3 separate regions of the Homo sapiens genome follow, and regions 1 and 2 are each linked to region 3. The links come from fine-mapping of genetic effects on gene expression. A gene starts in region 3. Each other region holds a variant in brackets. All regions are shown on one strand. Distances are from middle to middle.

Region 1 (8,177 bases), 82 kb after region 3:
TCCTTGCATCCAACAGATTTTTTTTTAACAGACAGGGGGCGGTCTCACTCTGTTACCTAGGCTGGAGTGCAGTGGCATGGTCACGGCTCACTGTAGCCTTGACTTCCTGTGCTCAAGCAATCCTTCCTCCTCAGCCTCCCAAGTGTCTGAGACCACAGGCATGTACCACAGCTGATTTTTAAGTTTTTTAATGTAGACATGGGGTCTCACTATGTTGCCCAGGTTGGTCTCAAACTCCTGGGCTCAAGCGATCATCCCACCTTGGCTTCCCAAAGTGCTGGGATTACACTATGCCTGGCCCCTCCAACAGATTTGACCGAGTGTGTACCTTGTGCCATGCACTGTTCTGGGCACTTGGGGTATAGCAGTGAACAAAACAAGATCCCAGCTCTCAAGGGCTTACATTCTAGCAGGGAGAAACAGGCAAGCAAGAACACAAGTGAAATTATCTAACAGGTTAAAAGATTATTTGGGCCAGGCGCAGTGGCTCATGCCTGTAATCCAAGCACTTTGGGAGGCCGAGGTGGGTGGATCACCTGAGGTCAGGAGTTCGAGACCAGCCTGACCAATATAGCGAAACCCCGTCTCTACTAAAAATATAAAAATTAGCCGGGCGTGTTGGCGGGCGCCAGTAGTCCCAGCTACTCGGGAGGCCGTGACAGGAGAATTGCTTGAACCTGGGAGGTGGAGGTTGCAGTGAACTGAGATCGTGCCATTGCACTCCAGCCTGGGTGACAGATCAAGGATCTGTCTCAAAAAAAAAAAAAAAAAAAAAGATTATATTTGTCGTTGGGGGAAAAAGGGAAGCAAATGTAGAGCAGGGGAAAGGAGGTCAGGAGTTTTGAAAACTAAGATGTCGTGTTAACTTCTAGGGTGAGAGAAAGCCTTGTTAAAGCCTGAATTCCAATTCTGTCTCTGCAGCTTCCAAGTTGTTTGAATCTGGTCATGTGAAAACCTATTTAAGCCTTGGTTTCCACATCTGAAGAATGGAGGCAGTAGTATGAAATTCATAGCTATCAATTATTGAGTGCTTCATATGTGATAGTGCTGAGCACTTTGTATACATGATCTCATTCTTAATAAGAACCCAGTGCATACTTCTTGTTCACCAGGTCTGAAGAAAAATATAAAAAACAGTGAAGTGGGTACTGTTACTACCCCCATTTTGCAGATGTGAAGAGCACACAGGTTAGATGACTTCCCTAAGGTCTCACAACTAGTGTGGAGATGGCGCTTGAACACGTCCTGGCGATGACGGGGCCATACCCTTACCCACCCTCTTATCTTCCAGACACTGGGATGGTTAACTGAGACTATGCACAAAGCACTTACTACTGCGGCCCCCGTAACTAGCGCCCTCAGAGCAGCCCTGAGAGATAAGAGTGGTTCTGGCCCTAGAAGAATGTGGTGGGGCCCAGGCCTCTGTCCTTTTTGTCCTTCCCAGTAGGGCCCCATCTCAAGTTGAATAGTGCAGGGTGGCCCAGGGCTGCTTCCAGGACTTGCCTGTCCTCCCTGAGTTTGGATGGGAGAGACACAAGGGCCTGGACCTCAGTTTTCTGTTCTCTGCCCCAGCTCAGTGCACCTGTGCAACAACTCCATCCAGAAGCACCTGGAGAACTCATGCCATCGGCATCCACTGCTTCCGCCAGACAACATGTGGTCTAGCCAGAGGTTCCAGGCCCACCTGCAGGAGATGGGTGCCCCAAATGCTTGGTCCACCATCATCGTGCCTGGCATGAAGGATGCTGTGATCCACGCACTTCAGACCTCCCAGGACACCGTGCAGTGTCGGAAGGCCAGCTTTGAGCTCTATGGCGCTGACTTCGTGTTCGGGGAGGACTTCCAGCCCTGGCTGATTGAGATCAACGCCAGCCCCACGATGGCACCCTCCACAGCAGTCACTGCCCGGCTCTGTGCTGGCGTGCAAGCTGACACCCTGCGCGTGGTCATTGACCGGATGCTGGACCGCAACTGTGACACAGGAGCCTTTGAGCTCATCTATAAGCAGGTGAGGAGGTTGGGCCCAGGCAGGACCCCAGAGAGTCTGCACCCTCTTCCAGGCAGCCCTGCAGTGGAGCATAGGACTCTGCAGTCAGACCCAGTTTAAGACCCAGATTCAAGTCCTGGTCCTGCTAAGGTGACCTCACTTCCTTGAGCCTCAGTTTCCTGATCTTTGAAATGGGGATATTATTACCATCTTTCTCATGGGAATGGGAGAATAAAATGAATTCATGTATGAGGATAATATTTCTAGAGAGGCATATAGCATAGCCATAAGAGCAGAGATTCTGGAATCTCCTTGGGTTCAAATTCCTGTTCAGTGACAACAAGCTATGTGACTTTGGACAAGTTCCTAACCCCTAGGTCTCCTTGTCCGTAAGAATAAAAATAGTACCTAACTCACAAAGTTAGGTACTATGAGTTGTGAGAATTAAATGAGTTGATAAGTAAAGTACTTCATTTATTTATTTTTGAGACAGAGTCTCGCTCTGTTGCCCAGGCTGGAGTGCAGTGGCATGATCTTGGCTCACTGCAACCTCTACCTCCTGGGTTCAAGCGATTCTCCTGCCTCAGCCTCCCAAGTAGTTGGGATTACAGGTGCCTACCACCACGCCTGGCTAATTTTTGTATTTTTAGTAGATACAGGGTTTTGCCATGTTGGCCAGGCTGGTCTCGAGCTCCTGACCTCAGGTGATCCGCCCACCTCGGCCTCCCAAAGTGCTGGGATTACAGGCAGAAGCCACCGTGCCCAGCCAGTAAAGTACTTTAGAATAGTGCCTGGCACGTAGTAAATGCTACTAAGTTTTAGCTAATGTTATTATTACCTAATAAGGTTAGGAGTTTCATCATGTATAACCTGTAAAGTGCCTGAATGTATAGTAATAGGCAATTACTGGTAGCTACTATTATTAGTAGTATTATAATTATTTCACTCGTCTTGCTCCAAAAAGAGATTGGAGTCTACTTGTAAAATAGAACAGCATTTTAAAAAATCAGTCAGAAAATTGATTGCAAGGCTTTCTGAGTTCTGGATAGAATTTCTTGTGGCAGTTTAAGTGGCTTCTGATTAGCCTCCGGTTTCTGTCAAGGTTTGGTTACAGGAAGAGAACGTACTGATCACATGACCTAAGTGACCTCGCCTTTGTTACAGTTGTTATTGATCATTTCTTAAATTAATATATTGGCGTTTTGGTTTCAAAAAATGTAAACGGGGAAATACATGGGCAGGAAAATATGAGCAAGCTGAGGGAAAAGGTGCCATTGTAGTGCAGTGCTCCCAATGCCAGTGCCCAGGCCAGAAGCATCTGAAAGCTTCTAAAGGTATGGATGTGAGGAGGCTCCACCCCCAGAGATTGACCCAAAATGTCTAGCTTGGGGAGGAGACTATGTATATCTGCATTTTTCAAATGCCCCCCAAATATCTTTTTTTTTTGAGACGGGGTCTTGCTCTGTTGCCTAGGCTGGAGTGCAGTGGCACCATCTCGGCTCACTGCAAGCTGCGCCTCCCGGGTTCAAGCGCTTTTCCTGCCTCCGCCCCCTGAGTAGCTGGGACTACAGGTGCCTGCCACCATGCCCGGCTAATTTTTTGTATTTTAGTAGAGATGGGGTTTCACCATGTTAGCCAGGATGGTCTCGATCTCCTGACCTCGTGATTTGCCCGCCTCGGCCTCCCAAAATGCTAGGATTACTGGCATGAGCCACCGCGCCAAGCCCTCTAAATGTCTTTTATTGCTGATTTGTTCTTGTTTTTGTTTTTAGGCCAGCACATAGTAAAGGCTTATACCTTGCACTGTTTTTTTTTGTCTCTTTTCATCTAGGCCAGCCCCAGTGCCTTTTGACCCCATAGTTTTGATCTTTTGAGGGGCCAGGCGGGTTGTTTTGTAGAACTGTCCCACATTCTGGATTTATCTGATTGTTTCCTTATGGTGTGATTTACCTTGGTCTTCTGTTAGCTGATTGTCTCAGGAACTAGAAGTTAGGTCAAATAGTTTGATGAGGTTAAACATTTTTCCCAAGAGCACTTCAGAGGTGATGCCGCGTACCTCATGTGGCATCACAAGGCACATCCTGTGAGAGTGTCTCACAGTTAGTGCTGCTGAGTTTGACTGTGGGTTACAGTGGTGGCTACCAGATTCTCTCCATTATAAGCTACATCTCCCCTTTGCAATTAATTTTTCTGTAAGGTGCTGTGTTGGCTCTGTCCAGATTACACATTTTCCTGTCATCCTTTCATCTAATTGTTTTGATACCAGTTTTGATTATTGCCTATTTTATTAGAGTTGCAAAATGGCAAATGTCTAATTCTGTTGTTCCTTCTGCATTTATTAGCTGAGATTCTTCTGTAAAGATGAACTTTCCCTCATCATCTGGGGCTACTTGGGAGTGCTGATAGCTACATTTTTATTTGATTTTTTTTTTTTTTTTTTTTTAGACAGAGTCTCACTCTGCCACCCAGGCTGGAGTGCAGTGGTGCTAGCTCGGCTCACTGCAACCTCCGCCTCCCGGATTCAAGTGATTCTCCTCAGATCC[C/T]GAGTAGCTGGGATTACAGGCGCCCACCATGGCCGGCTAATTTTTGTGTTTTTAGTAGAGATGGGGTTTCGCCATGTTGGCCAGGCTGGTCTCCAATTCCTGACCTCAGCTGATCCGCCTGTCTTGGCCTCCCAGAGAGCCACCGCGCCCGGCAATAGCTGCATTTTTTTTTTTTTTTTTTTTTTGAGACGGAGTTTCGCTCTTTTCACCCAGGCTGGAGTACAATGGTGCGATCTCGGCTCACTGCAACTTCTGTCTCCTGGGTTCAAGCAATTCTCCTGCCTCGACCTCCCGAGTAGCTGGGATTACAGGTGCCTGCCACCATGACCTGCTAATTTTTTTGTATTTTTAGTAGAGACAGGGTTTGGTTATGTTGGCCAGGCTGATCTCGAACTCTTGACCTCAAGTGATCTGCCAACCTTAGCCTCCCAAAGCTCTGGGATTACAGGTGTGACCACCATGCCCGGCCAATAGCTGTATTTTTAACAAGCTCCAAGTAATTCTGATGTTTAGATAGATTCTGATCAGGATCCTTCAGTGGCACAGAAGATACCTCCAACTGGCTCCAGGTTGCTAGCAAGGCACAGGGAGCTCTCCTGGAGCCCAGCTGAGGGCAGGACATACAGCTTGGCCTGATAGGAACTGAGAGTTGTAAGGGAGTCCCTCTCCTGGACCCTTCTCTCTGCCTTCCTCTGCATATTCGTTACTTCATTCTCTCCACAGACTGTCTTCTTTAAGGTTCTTAGTTTCTGCTACCCCATAACCTGGATTCACACGAGGCTCTAGGCAGGCTCCAAACCTCTTACTTGTCTGGGTGGCGTAACTCAAATTCTCTGTGCAGAGAATCTGATTGGCTCAGCTCAGGAAGCTGTCCACCAGCAGTGGCCTGTGCAGTGGAGCCACACGCATTCCAGCAGGGGCTGGGGGCAGCTTAGGAGGGAAATGTGGCTGAGGGGTGCTGGTGGGACATGGCTAGGATTCCCCCTTCCTCTGGGCTAGCAATTCCTGGAGCTCTGTGACTCTAGGTACTGACTCAGAGGTGGGCTTTCCATTTCTCAGCTCAGAAACGCCTCTTTGACCAGGTGCCTCAGAAAGTAATTCCACCCATCTCTACTCTGGGTCCCGCTGGGCCAAGGATTCCAGTACCACTGACTGAGTGGGCCTTGTCTCCTCTTCTTGCCCACAGCCTGCTGTGGAGGTGCCTCAATATGTGGGCATCCGGCTCCTGGTAGAGGGCTTCACCATCAAGAAGCCCATGGCGATGTGTCATCGGCGGATGGGGGTCCGCCCAGCAGTCCCTCTGCTGACCCAGCGAGGCTCTGGGGAAGGCAAGGACTCGGGGACCCCTACCCACAGGTCAGCTTCTAGGAAAGGCACTGGGGCCAGGAGCCTGGGGCACAGTGAGAAGCCAGTCTCCACTGCCACCACTTCAGCCCCCGGAAAGGGGAAGAAAGGCAAGGCGAAAAGGGCCACAGCCCTGGTCTGCCCCAATCTCTGGGAGTGGGATGCCCCCAGCACCAGGATGGGCTGCATTTTCACCATGACCTTTTCTAGTGGGGACAGGCAACCCCACCACTTGAACAGATTGCCACTGAGTCCGAAGAACCCCCGGGCCCTGGGTAAGACCATTCCCCCAAAACACCCGAGTGTTCCAAGGCGATTTATTCCTGCTCTCCAGGCCCCTCCCAACCACCTGGATCAGCCACCCCACCAAAGAGCCACCAGTAGCAAGTAAAAGCCACTACTCACAAAGTATTGTTTAAAAATACACAGCCAAATTAGCTGGGCACGGTGGTGTGAGCCTGTGGTCCAGGCTACTCGCGAGGCTAATGAGGATCGCTTGAGCCCGGGAGGTTAAGGCTGCAGTGAGTTATGATCGCACCTCTGCACTCCAGCCTGGGAGACAGAGCGAGATGCTGTCTTAAAAACAAAGACACAAAAAAAGCACTTTGGGAGGCCGAGGCGGGCAGATCACTTGAGGTCAGGAGTTCGAGACCAGCCTGGCCAACATGGTGAAACCCCATCTGTACTAAAAAATACAAAAATTAGCCGAGTGTAGGGGCAGGTGCCTATAATCCCAGCTACTTGGGAGACTGAGGCACGAGAATCGCTTGAACCCAGGAAGCGGAGGTTGCAGTGAGCCGAGATTGCACCATTGCACTCCAGCCTGGGCAACAAGAGCAAAACTCTGTCTCAAAAAAAAAAAAAAAAAAAAAACCCAGCCAAATGAGTATTGTCTCCTCCAAAGTAGTCACTCTGCCTCACAGAGTGACTTATTTCAAAGATGACCTGATTTCAAAGATGCCAGGACTTAAGCCCAGGTTGCTCTCTCCAGCGCCCACGCTTTTCCCACTGCAGTATTCTGCCTTTGCCTTCAAGCAGTCACCTCTCGGGGAAAGAACTAACACATGTCCAGCACTTAACAGTTTGCCCCATACCGCTACCTGCCCAGCTCCTTTAGTGTTTACACCAACCTAGCAAGGTAGGTGCTATTATCCCCATTTTCCAGCCGAGGTATCAGGAAGTTTAAGGAAGTTGCCCAAGGTTGCACAGCTCAGAAGGGGCACAGCTGGGATGCAGACCCAGGTCTGTTGGACTCTACCCTGTTTTCTTCTCACTGCCTCTGGAGGAGGAACCGGGAGGGCTCCGTCGGCCTTCACCCCATTCCCTCCATATCCCCCCATCCTCCACACGTACCTGTTAGGGCAGCTAGGCCACCTTGGGCCCCACCCCAGGGCCTCACAGCTTCTCTTGCTCCCACAGCCCGTCACCACTTCCCCAGCCTCCACACCAAGGCCCAGCTGCCTTCTCCCCATGTACTCCGACACCAGGGCCAGGTCCTCAGACGACAGCACAGCAAGCTGGTGGGCACTAAGGCCCTGTCGACCACAGGCAAGGCCTTGAGGACTCTACCCACGGCTAAGGTCTTCATTTCCCTCCCACCGAACCTTGATTTCAAGGTGGCACCCAGCATCCTGAAGCCAAGAAAGGTGGGCCTCGACCTGTGACTCACACCCAGTGGACAGTGCTGAGCACGGGGTCAGGGCTGGAGGGCACAGGCAGAGGGCAGCTCCCAGGCTGGCTGGCACCCCAAGGGAAGAGCTGGTCTCCCTCAGAAGCCCCTTCCTCCACAGACTTCTGATCATCTCCCTCTTCTCCCCTCCTTTCACACCGAGGCTCCTGCTCTCCTGTGCCTCCGAGGCCCCCAGCTGGAAGTGCCTTGTTGCCTCTGCCCTTTGAAGTCGGAACAATTCCTAGCACCTGTCGGAAGGTCAAGGCCAAAGGCAAATTCAAGGCCAGACTGTGACAAACCCAGGGCTGAGGCCTGCCCCATGAAGAGGCTGAGCCCCCTGAAACCCCTGCCCCTTGTTGGTACATTCCAGAGGCGCAGGGGCCTGGGGGATATGAAGCTAGGGAAGCCCCTGCTTCGATTCCCCACTGCCCTTGTCCTGGATCCAACACCAAATAAAAAGAAACAAGTGAAGTATTTGGGGCTTGACTCCATTGCTGTTGGAGGGTCAAGAGTGGATGGGGCGAGGCCGTGTACCCCAGGGTCCACAGCAAGAGCCTGAGGCCATCAGCAGCTCCTCCGTGCAGCGAGGCCCAGAATTCCCACCTAAGGACAGACATGGGGCTTCCTATTTAGG
Region 2 (8,177 bases), 51 kb after region 3:
GGAGAAAAGCCTACAGATAGATGGTCAAGCATGTGTAAAGCTCTGAGGTGGGAAAGAATTTGGCTGATACAAGGACTGACCAGTGCAGCTAGAAGCTAATCCCTCTCCTAAGAATGTCCTTATTCTGGCAGGGTGTGGTGGCTCACGCCTGTAAACCCAGCACTTTGGGAGGCCAAGGCGGGCAGATTACAAGGTCAGGAGATTGAGACCATCCTGGCTAACACCGTGAAACCCTGTCTCTACTAAAAATACAAAAAGTTAGCCGGGTGTGGTGGTGGGCGCCTGTAGTCCCAGCTACTTGGGAGGCTGAGGCAGGAGAAGGGCATGAACCCGGGAGGTGGAGCTTGCAGTGAGCCGAGATCGTGCCACCGCGCTCCAGCCTGGGCAACAGAGCGAGACTCTGTCTCAAAAAAAAAAAAAAAAAAAGAATGTCCTTATTCTCCTTTTTCTCCTCCTAATCCCATTTCACCTTCAAAACCAGTTTCTTCTGCAAATATAGATTACTTGTAAATCTAAATATTTCACATGTCATCTTTATATCATAGTTATTTTCTGTATATTTGCTATCCAGTTGAGCTGTTTGAGGGTAGAGACAGTGTTAATCATCTTTGAATTCCCAGTTAGCTCAGTGCGTGGCAAACAGTACACCTATACATTTGTTGGCCTAATAGATTGACGACAATCATGCATTCACTGGTGTGTCTCTAGATCACTTTCTCAACCTTAGCACTATTGATATTTGAGTCTCGATAATTCTTTGTAGTGCATTGTAGTATGTTTAGTGGATATCTGTCCACTGAATGCCTGCAGTTCCCCTTCTTGCCAAGTCATGACAATTGAAAATGTCTCAGCATTCCTCTGGTCTGACCCCAGGTTAAAAAAGAAAGAAAGGAAATGTCTCGACATTACCAAATGTACCCTGGCAGGCAAAATTGTCTCCTGTTGAAAACTACCACTCTACACCTTGGAAGGCGTCTCGAAGGCCTAGTCTGTTCTGTTCACAGTAGTGTCTTAAGAGCCTTGCACCCTCAGTGCTACCTGGCTTCATGGGAGCTGGAATAGGGGATCGGTGGGTTTGGCGTGACAGATTTTGATCTTCCCTTTCCTCTGTGTTATTTCCTATAGACTGCCACTCTCCGCCCCTACCTGAGTGCCGTGCGGGCCACATTGCAGGCTGCCCTCTGCCTGGAGAACTTCTCCTCCCAGGTTGTGGAACGACACAACAAGCCGGAAGTGGAAGTCAGGTAGGGAAGGACAAGTCAAGGTGGGGATGAGGGGTGCAGCACACAGAGATGGCTGCTGTCTAGAAGGTGCCATGAACTTATGTCCTGCAGTAGTCAGGAAAGCTGCAGTTGACATTTTGTCTTGCTGCCAGCTGAATGGTGATTCCCAATTTGGAGTTAAGAAAATAGGGTCAGTGGGTTGGCAGGACAGAACCCAGGGGAAAAGACAAGATTGGTTAACACAAGGTATGACTTCTCAGAGCAGGGCTGTTGATGAAGTCTCTCCTGTGGCATTGTTGAAAACACTGGTAGTTTAAGGAATGGTCAGATAATTGTTATCTGAGATTCCATCTCCATACTTTTCTTTTTTTTTTTTTTTTTTCCCATCTCCATACTTTTCTAATGTAATGATCAGGGATTTTTTTTTTACCTACCAGCCTAGACACTCTGACCCCCTAATCCAAATACTTCATATTTTGAATGATTTTCTCTTATCTAGTTTCCATTTCATAAATATCTTTTTCCCCTTTAAAATTTAATCTGGAGGCCTGGTGCAGTGGTTCACCCCTGTAATCCGAGCACTTTAGGAGGCTGAAGTGGGTAGATCGCTTGAGTACAGGAGTTCAAGACCAGCCTGGGCAACATGGCAAGACTCCATCTCTACCAAAAAAATATGCAAAAATAGTCAGGCATGGTGGCACATGCCTGTAGTCCCACTTCTCTGGAGGCTGAGGCAGGAGGATCTCTTGAGCCTGGGAAGCAGAGGTTGCAATGAGCCAACATTGCGACAGTGCACTCCAGCCTGGGTGAGACCCTGTCTCAAAAAATAAGTAAATAGGCCGGGCACAGTGGCTCACGCCTGTAATCCCAGCACTTTGGGAGGCCGAGGCAGACAGATTATGAGGTCAAGAGATCGAGAGCATCCTGGCCAACATGGTGAAACCTTGTCTCTACTAAAAATACAAAAATAAGCTGGGCATGGTGGTATGCACCTGTAGTCCCAGCTACTCGGGAGGCTGAGGCAGGAGAATTGCTTGAACCTGGGAGGCGGAGGTTGCAGTGAGCCAAGATCGTGCCACCGCACTCCAGCCTGGCAGCAGAGCAAGACTTCGTCTCAAAAATAAAATAAAATAAAATAAAATAAAATAAAATTCATTCTGGTACATACATAACTGAGATAATCTGGGTTACAACATTAAATGATACGATTTAATTTTTAATTTTAAAAATAACTGATAAAGATGTTAGGATATGCCCTGTTATACTGTGTAACGTACACGATTTCCAGTGGGCCTTTGAAAATGGTTAGCAGTTTAGAGACACCACACCACAATTAATTACTATTAGAGATCTCTAGGTATTCAGAGGCATTACTTTGTAACCTGAACTCATAGGGGTCTCAGAGGCAAATGAATCATTTCTGGATTGATAATTAAAGGAAGCCAAACTGTGTTCAATTTTAGCCTTTCCTTACCTCTAAGACAGGTGTTCTCTCTGTATTCCTAAATGGTATATTGGTTTGCCTGTACAGGTTGAGTATCTCTTATCCAAAATGCTTGGGACCAAAAGTATTTCAGATTGTGGAATATTTGCAGATACTTAACCAGTTGAGCATCCCTAATTCCAAATCCAAAATGCTCCAATGAGGATCTCCTTTGAGCATCTTGTCAGCACTCGGAAACTTTCAGGTTTTTTTTTTTTTTTGAGATGGAGTTTGATTCTGTCACCCAGGCTGGAGTACAGTGGTATGATCTTGGCTCACTGCAACTGCCACCTCCTGAGTTCGAGCAATTCTCGTGCTTCAGCCTCCTGAGTATCTGGGATTATAGGAGTGCGCCACCATGCCCAGCTAATTTTTATATTTTTAGTACAAATGGGATATCACCATGTTGGCCAGGCTGGTCTCGAACTCCTGACCTCAGGTGATCCACCAGCCTCAGCCTCTCAAAGTGCTGGGATTACAGGCATGAGCCACTGTGCCCAGCCAGTTTCAGATTTTGGATTTCAGATTTGCAGATTGGGGATGTTCAACTTGTAGTTACTAAAATAGCTATCTTTTGTAAAGCTCCTACTATGTGCCAGGCACGCTATTAGACATTTGACCCTTTTTGATCTCTCTCAGTCCTCGCCAGTGAATTAGGAATCAGAGTCATTTTACAGATGAGAAAATTGAGATTCCAACAGGGTAACTTGCCCAAGGAAAGTAACAGAGGAGGCTGGATTTCAAAACCTTTTCGCCCTGACTTCAGAGCCTGTGCTCTTTCTGCTGAAGAACACACTCACTGGCCCCCATCTTGGAGCACTCCTGCTTGTGAGTCTTCTATTCCTTGGACTCTATGGTCTCATAGTGATTCCAGGACCTGCGTGGGGTCACTCTGACTATTCTATCCCTCTGTAGTACAAGTACTCTGTCACATTATGTTTTCAGGAGTAGCAAAGAGCTCCTGTTACAACCTGTGACCATCAGCAGGAATGAGAAGGAAAAGGTTCTGATTGAGGGCTCCATCAACTCTGTCCGGGTCAGCATTGCTGTGAAACAGGTAAGTTCACCATGGAGGAGGCCCAACGTAAGGCCTCTTTCAGTCCTTTCAGCCTCTTTCAGTCCGGGGTCCCCATCTGAGAGATCAGTGTGCCAGATTCCAGATTCAGAGTGCAGGAAACCTAGCCTCTGCTTCCTTTTTTTTTGACACGGATTCTCACTCTTGTCGCCCAGGCTGGAGTGCAGCAGCATGATCTCAGCTCACTGCAACCTCTGCCTCCCGGGTTCAAGCAGTTCTTCTGTCTCAGTCTCCCAAGTAGCTGGGATTACAGGCATCCGCCACCACGCCCAGTTAATTTTTGTATTTTTAGTAGAGACAGAGTTTCACCATGTTTGCCAGGATGGTCTCCATCTCCTGACCGCAGGTGATGGGCCCGCCTCAACCTCCCAAAGTACTGGGATTACAGTCATGAGCCACCATGCCTGGCCAGTAGAGGGCAACTCTAAACTTTCAACAGGATGAAAACGAAGCACTGTTATTAAATGCAGACTACACACTGTTTTCTACAGAAACTTATAAACCTGGGGCCTGCTTTCCTTGCTAAAATGGGAGGTTAACAAGTGTTGAGAGGTGTTAAGGGCATGCTAGCAACCAGCAGCAATAATCTTCCTTTAGAAATGTTGAGAGTTCAGGGCCAGGCACAGTGGCTCATGCCTGTAATCCCAGCACTTTGGGAGACCAAGGCGGGTGGATCACTTGATGTCAGGAGTTCAAGACCAGCCTGGCCAACATGGTAAAACCCTGTCTCTACTAAAAATACA[G/A]AAATTAGCCAGGCGTGGTGGCACGCGCCTGTAATCCCAGCTACTTGGGAGGCTGAGGCAGGAGAATCGCTTGAACCCGGGAGGCAGAGCTTACAGTGAGTCAAAATCGTACCACTGCACTCCAGCCTGGGTGACAGAGCGAGATTCCATCTCAGAAAAAAAAAAAAAAAAAAAAAAAAAGAAATGTTGAGCATTCAGAAGGGAGAAACTTCAGGGATTGTTGGATGTTCAGTGTTATTAAAGCAGAGACCACCTAAGGTTATCTCTGATAGCCCAGGTGATGCTGCAAAACACCCTGGGAAATGTGACACTAGTGAAATGAGAATGGAAAGGGCAGCTTGGAGTACAGCTGTAGACTCTGAAAGAAGCAATAGAAGCCTGTCAGAATTACCTCTCTGGAATGGGTCGTCATTAAGAGATGCCCCAAGGTAGACCCTTGTTTCAGTTGACAGCCAGGTCCCCCACTTCAGTGATCCTTCCGAGTACCAAACCTCACTGTCTCCTGGGAGCCTTGAAAAAACTGGAGTCAGAAGACCAGGCTACAAGGTGTTTTTGGCCTTGGGTGTCAGCTTTAGAGAAACATTTCTCTCTTGCACTCCCCAGGCTGATGAGATCGAGAAGATTTTGTGCCACAAGTTCATGCGCTTCATGATGATGCGAGCAGAGAACTTCTTTATCCTTCGAAGGAAGCCTGTGGAGGTGAGACCCTGTGACCCATGAGTTTGCGATACCCAGGACCCTGTTACAGAATGGCCTGGGATTGTTTCTAGAACCAGCTACTCCAGCTGTTTGGCACCCACTGCCTGAATTGAGAGTTGGCCTTCATCTTGGAGTGGGAGCAAAGAGGATTAGAAGCTTAGGAAAAGTTGGGTCTACCTCAGCCATAGAAAAGGCAAAAAAGAGCCGGGCGTGGTGGCTCATGCCTCTAATCCCAACACTTTGGGAGGCCGAGGTGGGTGGATCATGAGGTCAGGAGTTCAAGACCAGCCTGGCCAACATGGTGAAACCCCATCTCTATTAAAAATACAAAAATTAGCTGGGCATGGTGGTGGGCGCCTGTAATCCTAGCTACTCAGGAGGCTGAGGCAGAGAACTGGTTGAACCTGGGAGGCGGAGGTTGTAGTGAGCCAAGATCGTGCCACTGTACTGCAGCCTGGGCGACAGAGCAAGACTCCGTCTCAAAAAAAAAAAAAAAAAAAAAAAAGGCAAAAAAGATAAGACACATTGCTTATTCCCGGAGCCTATAGTCTAGCATCAGAAAGAGCACAGTGAATTAGAAATCCTTTCTAAGATCTGCCAAATGAATCATAGTCTCTCTCTCTTTTTTTTTTTCTTTGAGACGGAGTCTCGCTCTGTCGCCCAGGCTGGAGTGCAGTGGCACAATCTTGGCTCACTGCAAGCTCCGCCTCCCGGGTTCACGCCATTCTCCTGCCTCAGCCTCCTGAGTAGCTGGGACTACAGGCGCCCACCACCACACCTGGCTAATTTTTTGTATTTTTAGTAGAGACGGGGTTTCACCATGTTAGCCAGGATGGTCTCGATCTCCTGACCTCGTGATCTGCCTGCCTCGGCCTCCCAAAGTGCTGGGATTACAGGCTTGAGCCACCGCGCCTGGCCTTTTTTTTTCTTTTTTTGAGATGGAGTTTTGCTTTTGTTGCCCAGGCTGGAGTGCAGTGGCGCAGTCTCACTGACTGCAACCTTCCACCTCCCAGGTCAAGTGATTCTCCTGCCTCAGCCTCCCGAGTAGCTGGGATTATAGGCACGCATGTGCTACCATGCCCAGCTAATTTTGTATTTTTAGTAGTTTCATTGTGTTGGCTAGGCGGTCTCAAACTCCTGACCTCAGGTGATCCGCCTGCCTCGGCCTCCCAAAGTGAATCATAGTCTGCAATCTGGGCTCACTGCAAGCTCCGCCTCCTGGGTTCACGCCATTCTTCTGCCTCAGCCTCCCGAGTAGCTGGGACTACAGGTGCCCGCCACCATTCCCGGCTAATTTTTTGTATTTTTAGTAGAGACGGGGTTTCACTGTGTTAGCCAGGATGGTCTTGATCTCCTGACCTTGTGATCCGCCCACCTCGGCCTCCCAAAGTGTTGGGATTACAGGCGTGAGCCACCGCGCCCGGCCCACTGAATCAGTCTCTTAAAGCCACAGTTAACATTGGGTCAGTTGTTGCCTGAATTTGTACTTGAATCTTCTCCACAGACTCCTTGCCAGGTAAACTTAAAATATCCCCAGTGACTAAGCAACTACCACACAGCAGCATGTGCCATCATCAGACACGTCAGGCGTGTTAGCCAAGTTCTTCCTCATTCTGAGCCAAATTTTCTCTCCTGGTCCTAGATCTAACCTCTGGGGCCACCCGGAATAAATAAAATTGATCTTCCTCCCACAGCCCTCCAGCAGAAAAAGACCCTTAATCCCACCCATCTTCCACATCATCTCTTCTCTGGACTAAATGTTCCCTGTTGTTTGATTAGATTATTCTGTAACAAGACTTCAAGTTCCTTGACTCATTCTGAATGCAGAGCTGTTGTGCCACAGATAGTTTTCCAGAGATGTCTGATACACACAGAATTCTCAACGGGGTTCAGTTGCTTGGATCCAACCTAGACACCCTCCCCCAGAGCAGCTGGGCTGCTGACTGGAAGGGTATGTAGCTTGGGAGAAGATCACAGCCAGTGGGAAGCATGTGGATGAGTGGAGGACATGACCAGCTCAGTTCCCATGGGGTGCTAATTCTCTCCTGTTCCTTCTCTTCCCCCTCCCTACTGTCTTCTTCCCTAGGGGTATGATATCAGCTTTCTGATCACCAACTTCCACACAGAGCAGATGTACAAACACAAGTTGGTGGACTTTGTGATCCACTTCATGGAGGAGATTGACAAGGAGATCAGTGAGATGAAGCTGTCAGTCAATGCCCGTGCCCGCATTGTGGCTGAAGAGTTCCTTAAGAATGTGAGTAGGGGCCTTTAGCTTTCCTTCCAGAGGCCAGAGGATCTGGGGGTCATGTTGAGAACTTAGCATCTGGTGGGAAAGGGGTCCAAGCAGTGTGTTTATATCTCCTGAGCTCTCTAGGACCCCTGGGGCACAGCAGGTCAGTCAGGTGCTTTGGAGCTAGAGGACCCCAAGTTCATCTCTGAGAGCTACAAGGCATTTTCTATATTTGGGTGTCTGGGGTGGCTCTTAGTCTCTCGTAGGAACTTGGTCACTCATTTCTACATCTCAGGATGTTCACAAAGTCCTTGCCTCTATCTCGTTTAAACCCCAAGTGAGGTAAGTGAAGTCTGCATGTGAATTTTCTAGGAGTATAGGACAATTAATCATGTTATGATTCCACTTCTCAAATAGACTTCAGTACTTTCCTTCAGCATGTTTCTCAGGCTTAAATCATGATTCCTTCAACCTGTTTTCCATCACTTGCATGGCGTAAGTCCTCCAGATTCCTCTTACGTTGTTTATGTCTTTCTAATTGAAAGCACTTTAGTCATCTGAAGAGGTAGAATTGTTTACATTGATGAACTGGTGACATCGTTCTTAGTTGTTTAGATATTCAGAACATGCCTTTTTTTTTCTCCTTTTTCCAAGCAATCTTTGGTTTGTTGACATGTGCCACCCAGAGTGGCTGTGATCTCTAGACGGTAGACTTAGTGTG
Region 3 (8,177 bases):
CCAGAGGACAGCAGTGAGGATACCTCAGGCACTGAGAATGAGGCCTACTCCGTGGGCACTGGCCGCGGCGTGGGCCACAGCAGTAAGTTCCCTTGCCCAAGGCCAGGGATGCTGGGGACCCAGTGTCAGGGTCTCGCCAGCCCCCCAGCTGCTGATCCACCCCCTCTCCCCCATTCCTGTGAAGTGGTAAGGAAGAGTCTGGGCCGGGGAGCTGGCTGGCTGTCAGAGGATGAGGACTCCCCGCTGGATGCTCTGGACCTCGTGTGGGCCAAATGCCGAGGCTATCCATCATACCCAGCTCTGGTATGCTTGCTTCTGTTACACTTCTTGCTTTCCAATCCCAGAATACAGATTCACAGTTAGCAGACTTTTCCTACTCCCTGCTGAGCTGTGGGGCACAGAGTTTCTTGGTAAGGTAGACTGGTGGGCAGATACAGCTTGAGTACCACTTAGAGGCTCCCACTCAGTTTCTCCATCTCTCCCTTTTGCTTCTCTTTGCTCCTTGGGCTCTGAAATAATTTAGCATGGAAAGAAGCTGAGGGTCAGCATTGCAGTTCTAGTAGCATGATACCCTCTCTGTCCCCACTTCAGACATACTCTCTAAGTTCTTGAGGAGGAAAAGCCTTGGGAGGACATGGACTGAACCAAACTGGGCTCTTATTATATCCTCAGATCATTGATCCAAAGATGCCCCGAGAAGGTATGTTCCACCATGGGGTTCCCATCCCTGTGCCCCCACTGGAGGTGCTGAAACTTGGGGAGCAGATGACCCAGGAAGCCCGAGAGCATCTCTACCTCGTCCTCTTCTTTGACAACAAACGAACCTGGTAAGGAGGGGAGCATTTGGTGTGACTCACAGCCACAGATGCAGCCCTGTGTGGTATGGGGGCAGACTGCCAGGAAACTCCAGCAACAGGCAGACTGGGCTATCACAAGTCAGTGGGGGAGGGACTTAGAACAGTTTTTTGAGCGAAAGGGTTGTGTCGACCATGTGTCTGAGAGGCTGAGTGGGCACTAGTGGACACAGCTATAGCTAGAAACCAAAGGACCATCAGAGACTTATGACAAATATAGAGGTGGCTCCCACCCAGACTCAGATGGCTTCTAGACTTAGTTTTCCCACCTCTGCCTCCACAGTGACAAAATGAGGATAAAGCAGGCATAAACATTCAGGCTCTGAATCCCTGTTCTGTCACATTTACACATGTAGTCTTTTTGTTAATTGTCTGCAGAGGATATTCAATGTCAGTAAAGTCTGCCTAGAGCCTATGGCACAGGGTAGCTATTTCTGGTGAGGTCAGGGTGCCTCCTTTTTGTACCCATAAATACCCTGTGATTACCCTCCCGCCGCCACCACACAGTATAACTGTTGACTGGGCTCTTTCATCTCTAGACCATGAACAGTCCTTTGAGGGCAGGGACCATCACAGAGTCTGGCCAGAGTGGGTGCTTGGGTGGTGTGTTTGAGTGAATAGAGGAGGAAGGCTGGTCCTTGTTCTCCCTGAGATGATTTATTTGATCTTCACCTTATCCTATAGGCAGTGGCTGCCCAGGACCAAGCTGGTTCCTCTGGGTGTGAACCAGGACCTAGACAAGGAGAAGATGCTGGAGGGCCGCAAGTCCAACATCCGCAAGTCAGTACAGATCGCCTACCACAGGGCTCTGCAGCACCGCAGCAAGGTGCAAGGCGAGCAGAGCAGTGAGACCAGCGATAGTGATTGATACTGCTCAACACAGCCCAACCTATAGTGCCCTGTGACTTCTCTCCTCCCCTTTGCTCACTGTCCTGGAGTGGCACCGGCCTCTGCACTGACTCATTTCTGGTCTTGGGGCCAGTCTCAGGGGAAGCTGGGTGGGGGAGGTCCCTCCTGCCCTAAGTGCAGCTGGACTGTACAGAACACTCCAAGGGCCAATGGCAGTTCAGCGCAAGGAGAGGGAGGGCCCACAGGTCAGAAAAAGCTCCAGAGACCTCACAGCATTGTAGGGCGGGGTGGTGGGCCAAAGTTAGGACACTGCGTAAAACAGGCCATCCCACCACCTCTACCTGCTCATGCCAGGAGAATCCATAACTGCCTAGAGGCCTGGGGCCCCTACCGGTCGTGAGGTGAGTGGGCATCTGTCCAGCCTGGAAGAGGGGCACTAGGTGACTCCCTCCCCTGCTGTTGTAAATACTGTAATTATCGGAGAATTTAAATTATTCTCATTTGTAACTGCGTTTCCGGGTCGCGCCAGAGTCATTTGGTACTAAAAAAAAAAAAAAAAAAGACTGGGGGCTGTCCCCATTTCCCTTCTCTTTCCCATAGATTCCCCCACCTTTCAAACTGGTTTGTATTTATTTCAAAGGAAGAAAATATATTGATTCTTAGAAAATAAACTGTCAATTTAGAATTCTTTGTTCTTGCCCCCTGCCAGGGCAAAGGGGATACAAAGGGAGGTTCTGTGCCCCAGGGATGATACATAATTGGGCCCAAGTGGTTGCTGACTGCTGTGCATGCTACATTTCATAAGACACAGCAAAGAGAGCCCCTGTTGCCCATGCATGGAGTGAGTGGCAGGCCCTGTGTTGAGCACCTTTAGACATTCAGCTTTGCGTAATCCTTGCAATAACTATAGGGTAGTTTAATAATAGACTGGTTATCTCCACAAAGATGCTGAAGTTTCAAAAAATTATCTTGCCTAAGTTCCTACAACTAGGAAGGTGCAGAGCTAGAATTGGAACCCAGGTCTGTTTGCAAACCTGGCTCTTCAACCAGTATGCTGAACTGCCAGGGGAAGAGTCAACTATCGATTCCTACTTGGCCCTTAGAGGCCTCAAGTCCTTTGCCAGTGGCATGGCCCAAGTGTTTCAGCATCAATACAGCTGAGACCTTCCCCACTGCTTAACCGGAGACAGAGCTGGGATGGAGACGGTTGCTCTTTGCTCACCCCCAACCTCAGCACCTTCTTTCCAGACTCCACCGACATTTATTGAAGGAATGCCTTCCAAGTGCTAGGCGCCTGTGGGATGGCATGCCTACAGATAGGAACAGTCACAGGAAGAAGGGGCGGCCCAGGCCTTGCAGCCACTGAGGACTGGCACTGAGACAATGATGGCACTGGTCTGATGTTGATTCCATGCTGACGGTACACTCCGCTAGGTCTCTGGCTGGGACACAAGGGTCAATCCGCTGCAGATGTTGCTCTTCAAGAATTTGCAGTCTGGGCGGGGTGCGGTGGCTCACGCCTGTAATCCCAACACTTTAAGAGGCCGAGGCGGCTGGATCACGAGGTCAAGAGATCGAGACCATGCTAGCCAACATGGTGAAACCCCATCTCTACTAAAAATACAAAAATTAGCTGGGCGTGGTGGCGCGCACCTGTAGTCCCAGCTACTCGGGAGGCTGAGGCAGGAGAATCGCTTGAACCCGGGAGGCGGAGCTTGCAGTGAGCCGAGATCGCGCCATCACACTCCAGCCTAGGCGACAGAGTGAGACTCCGTCTCAAAGAAAAAAAACTTGCAGCCTGATAGTTAAGATACAGCAACCCCAAATCCCTATGCTAAAAGGTGAGAATGGCCCAGATAAAGGTCATGTCTCCTAGCTCCCTGCTTTTTCATGCCATCCTCCAGAAGGGAAGAAATTAAATAATCCATCCTCCTACTCCAGGCGACTAGAAGGCAGGCTGCCTCAGGGCCACACACTGGGACTTGGACTCAACCTGATGGGCTTCTGGGCCCAGCCCCAGACAAACCCCCGGCAAACGTCCCATTCCGAGGAAAGCATGAGCAGATGGAGTATGGAAGAAATGCCCAAGACGGCAGGCAGCAGCTGTGGCGGCCGGCGGGACGACAATCCGAGGAGAGGCCTCTGATGTCCTGAGGTCTCAGAGGACGCCTAAAGGCCTTGAATGGGACAAGCTTAGCGGGCGGGCGCAGAAGAGAATAATACTCTGGAGACACTTCCCGAGGGCTCTGGGGCCGGAGCTGTGTTCGCTCCGGTTCTTGGTGAAGACAGGGTTCGTGGGAGGCGGCCCAAGGAGGGCGAACGCCTAAGACTGCAAAGGCTCGGGGGAGAACGGCTCTCGGAGAACGGGCTGGGGAAGGACGTGGCTCTGAAGACGGACAGCCCTGAGGAACCGCGGGGCGCCCAGATGGAACTCGTTAGCGCCCCGAGTGCAGACAATCCCGGAGGGGGAAAGGCGAGCAGCTGGCAGAGAGCCCAGTGCCGGCCAACCGCGCGAGCGCCTCAGAACGGCCCGCCCACCCTGATTTCTCATTGGCGCCTCCTACCTCCTCCTCGGATTGGCTACCTCTAGGTGAAATGAGCGGTGGTTGAGCCCTACTTCCGGTGGTGCTGTGGTCTGCCCCTGGAGAACCCAGAAGAACACAGCTGTGCGCGCCCACAGGCTCTGGGGGCGGGAGAAGATAAGTCGCAAGGAGGGGGCGGGACCTACACCTCAGGAAAGCCGGAGAATTGGGGCACGAAGCGGGGCTTTGATGACCCGCAAAGGGCGAGGCATGCAGGAGGTGGAGGAATTAAGTGAAACAGGGAAGGTTGTTAAACAGCACCGTGTGGGCGAGGCCTTAAGGGTCGTGGTCCTTGTCTGGGCGGGGTCTTTGGGCGTCGACGAGGCCTGGTTCTGGGTAGGCGGGGCTACTACGGGGCGGTGCCTGCTGTGGAAATGCCTGCCCGCGCGCTTCTGCCCAGGCGCATGGGGCATCGTACTCTAGCCTCCACTCCTGCCCTGTGGGCCTCCATCCCGTGCCCTCGCTCTGAGCTGCGCCTGGACCTGGTTCTGCCTTCTGGACAATCTTTCCGGTGAGTGACTGAGCCTGAGAAGCCTGTCCCCTCGGACTGGCTCCTGCCGCCTCAACACTGCCTGGCATGGGGTACAAAGGAATTTGGGGGATGATGGAAGAAACCCGGGGTACAAAAGAGGAAACAAGCACGGGTAGCCAACCTGTTACCTTTAATATGTCTGTACAGTGATAATTGTAAGGATCCAGCGGTATAACCGATGCAGAAGATAATAGCACTTGTTTTTCTTTTTTTGAGACAGGGTCTCGCTCTGTTGCCCAGGTAGGAATGCAGAGAGGCCCATTCCAGCCTCGACCCCCCGGGCGCAGCCTCCCGAGTAGCTGGGACTACAGGTGTGCGCCATGCCCGGTTAAATTTTTGTATTTTTTGTAGAGGTGAGGTTTCGCCATGTTGCTCAGACTGGAAGATAGCACTGTTACTTGTATTAGTTTCGTACATGGAGCTATTGTAGGATAGGAGGGACCCCAAAGGGTGCAAGAAAGGAAATTGAGTGCCAGGGTTGTCATGTGCCTTGGGCTCAGGTGGAGGGAGCAAAGTCCTGCACACTGGAGTGGTGTACTAGCGGATCAAGTATGGACACTGACTCAGACTGAGGAGCAGCTCCACTGCACTGTGTACCGAGGAGACAAGAGCCAGGCTAGCAGGCCCACACCAGACGAGCTGGAGGCCGTGCGCAAGTACTTCCAGCTAGATGTTACCCTGGCTCAACTGTATCACCACTGGGGTTCCGTGGACTCCCACTTCCAAGAGGTGGCTCAGAAATTCCAAGGTGAGTACAGGACCTGGGCTGGGGTTAGGGTTCTTGGACATAAGTCACTTCTCTATGACTCAGTTTTGCCACCTGTAAAATGGGGATTATATCTACTTCATAGGCTTTTATGAGGATTTAAGGAACTAATACATGTAAAGTGCTTAGAATAATGCCAGGCACATAGTAAGTATTATTACCATTATTATTATCCTGCTAATCACCATAGTGAAGTGACAAGGATTTTGAGCCCATTCCTGGTTGTGTGACCTAGGGCAAGTGATTTCATTCATTCTGTAAATATATACAAAGCATCTGCTGTGTGACCGGGGATACACCAGTGAACAAAACAGACCCAAATGCCAGTCCTCATGGAGCTTACATTGTGGCCTCTTTATCTGTGGAATGGGATGGTAACTCAGCCCTCACAAGATGCTATGAGGAATGAGAGGTCTGGTGTTGCTTTCTCTAACGGTGCTGACTCTCATTCTCCTGGGATCCTCCTGGAGTTTTGGTACCTAGGATCTGACCTGTGGGTGGGAAGAGGCCACACCCAACAGCAGGTACCTCTCCTACCCCCTGCATTTCTGGTCTCCAGGTGTGCGACTGCTGCGACAAGACCCCATCGAATGCCTTTTCTCTTTTATCTGTTCCTCCAACAACAACATCGCCCGCATCACTGGCATGGTGGAGCGGCTGTGCCAGGCTTTTGGACCTCGGCTCATCCAGCTTGATGATGTCACCTACCATGGCTTCCCCAGCCTGCAGGCCCTGGCTGGTGAGTAGGTGGGTCCCCTGCCCCCAGGCCTTCCATCAGCTTTCAAGATCTGTTCATTTCTCCCCTGGTTACCTTCTCAAGGCTTCCTGCCTTCCCAAACACTTCCCCTATCCAGAACCGCCCTGCCTGGTCTGATCAACTCCAGTTACTCATCCTCCCTATGCATCCCTAAAATGTCAGCACCTCACTGGTCTGTGCTTTTTGCCCAATGGGTTCAATGCCTAATCAGAAAAATATCTGTATACAATGTACAGTAGTTTGGGGTTAAGAGCATGCATTCTGGGGACAGACCCATGCCTGGTTCTGAACCCCAACTCTCACTTGGGCACATTATTTAGCATCTCTGTACTAAAGTTTCTTCATCTGTGAAGTAGAATAATAATAGCACCTACCTATGCTATTATTGGAGTTGTCATGAGGGTTGAAGAAAGGAATATACATACTGCACCTAGCACAGTGTTTGGCACACAGGAAGTATATGTAAAATTCAAGCTGGTATCAGCCAGGCGCAGTGGCTCACACCTGGCTAACACAGTGAAACCCCGTCTCCAGCCTGGGCAACAGAGCGAGACTCTGTCTCAAAAAAAAAAAAAAAAAAAAAAATTCAAGCTGGTATCATTGTAGTGAATGGGATAGTTTTGTATCTAAGAACACGTGTGTTCTTCACAGTAGCCCTGTAAGGCAAATGTTTTACAGAGGCAAGTGTATCGATTGGCAGATGTGAGAACCAAGCTAGGACAAGTGCTTGGGAACTGCATAGCAAAGAGACAGACTGCCTCAAAACAGGAGAATGTTTTTGGTGCTTAGAAACCCATTCCTGGCCGGGCGTGGTGGCTCACGCCTGTAATCCCAACACTTTGGGAGGTCGAGGCAGGCAGATCATCTGAGGTCAGGAGTTCAAGACCAGCCTGGCCAACATGGTGAAACCCCATCTCTACTAAAAATACGAAAATTAGTCAGGCGTGATGGCAGGCACCTGTCCCAGCTACTCCGGAGGGTGAGGCAGGAGAATTGCTTGAACCCGGGAGCAGGAGGCTCCAGTGAACCAAGATCAGACCACAGCACTCCAGCCTGGGTTACAGAGCGAGACTCCATCTCAAAACAAACAAAAAGAAACCTGGGTCAGGCACGGTGGCTCACACCTGTAATCCCAACACTTTGGGAGGCTGAGGCAGGTGGATCACCTGAGGTCGGGAGTTTGAGACCAGACTGGCCAACCTGGTGAAACCCGCTCTCTGCTAAAAATTAGCTGGGCGTGGTGGCAGGTACCTGTAATCCCAGCTACTCAGGAGGCTGAGGCGGGAGAATCATTTGAACCTGGGAAGCAGAGGTTGCAGTGAGCTGAGATCATGCCATTGCACTCCAGCCTGGGCGACAGGGCGACAGGGCGAGACTCCGTCTCAAAAAAAAAAAAAAAACCTGGCCGGGCGTGGTGGCTCACACCCGTAATCCCAGCATTTTGGGAGGCCGAGGCGGGTGGATCACGAGGTCAGGAGATCAAGACCATCCTGCCTAATACGGTGAAACCCCGTCTCTACTAAAAATACAAAAAAAATTAGCCGGGTGTGGTGGTGGGCGCCTGTAGTCCCAGCTACTTGGGAGGCTGAGGCAGGAGAATGGCGTGAACCCGGGAGGCGAAGCTTGCAGTGAGCCGAGATCGTGCCACTGCACTCCAGCCTGGGCGACAGAGTGAGACTCTGTCTCAACAAAAAAAAAAAGAAACCTGTTCTTGAGTCTCAGCTCCTGGCTTAGTTAGTCATAAGGCCTCAAGAAAGTCATTCACCTCTTCCGGCTTCTCTTAGCTTGTTTGTAGAATGGGAATAACAGTTTCTATCTAGAAGGGCTTTGGGAGTGA

The links. PIP is the estimated chance that this variant, and not a neighbour inherited with it, causes the effect. A credible set is the group of variants that fine-mapping cannot tell apart.
Region 1: its variant is the best candidate, but not a certain one, in a credible set for the expression of OGG1 in whole blood (TOPMed, PIP 0.64).
Region 2: its variant is the best candidate, but not a certain one, in a credible set for the expression of OGG1 in whole blood (TOPMed, PIP 0.69).

The regions. Positions count from the first base shown.
Region 1 is chr3:9,827,388-9,835,564 of GRCh38, forward strand. ARPC4-TTLL3 (ARPC4-TTLL3 readthrough) reads left to right here. Exons shown (of 12, transcript NM_001198793.1): 11 at 1,573-2,008; 12 at 7,294-8,177. The coding sequence ends at 7,434. TTLL3 (tubulin tyrosine ligase like 3) reads left to right here. Exons shown (of 14, transcript NM_001387446.1): 11 at 1,573-2,008; 12 at 5,717-5,858; 13 at 7,294-7,520; 14 at 7,707-8,177. The coding sequence ends at 8,102. Among named protein-coding and RNA genes, the nearest start is that of RPUSD3, 13 kb to the right of the region's middle. RefSeq lists enhancers at 1-298, 7,692-8,177 and silencers at 1, 12-81. The variant C/T (reference allele first, on the strand shown) is at 4,531.
Region 2 is chr3:9,796,534-9,804,710 of GRCh38, forward strand. It overlaps ARPC4-TTLL3 (ARPC4-TTLL3 readthrough), which reads left to right. Exons shown (of 12, transcript NM_001198793.1): 2 at 1,126-1,244; 3 at 3,652-3,763; 4 at 5,128-5,223. It overlaps ARPC4 (actin related protein 2/3 complex subunit 4), which reads left to right. Exons shown (of 6, transcript NM_005718.5): 2 at 1,126-1,244; 3 at 3,652-3,763; 4 at 5,128-5,223; 5 at 7,310-7,480. Among named protein-coding and RNA genes, the nearest start is that of ARPC4, 7.5 kb to the left of the region's middle. The variant G/A (reference allele first, on the strand shown) is at 4,525.
Region 3 is chr3:9,745,628-9,753,804 of GRCh38, forward strand. OGG1 (8-oxoguanine DNA glycosylase) reads left to right here and starts at 4,325. Exons shown (of 7, transcript NM_002542.6): 1 at 4,325-4,796; 2 at 5,318-5,565; 3 at 6,143-6,322. The coding sequence starts at 4,660. BRPF1 (bromodomain and PHD finger containing 1) reads left to right here. Exons shown (of 14, transcript NM_001003694.2): 11 at 1-82; 12 at 185-303; 13 at 673-827; 14 at 1,539-2,388. The coding sequence ends at 1,722. RefSeq lists enhancers at 3,899-3,948, 3,979-4,098.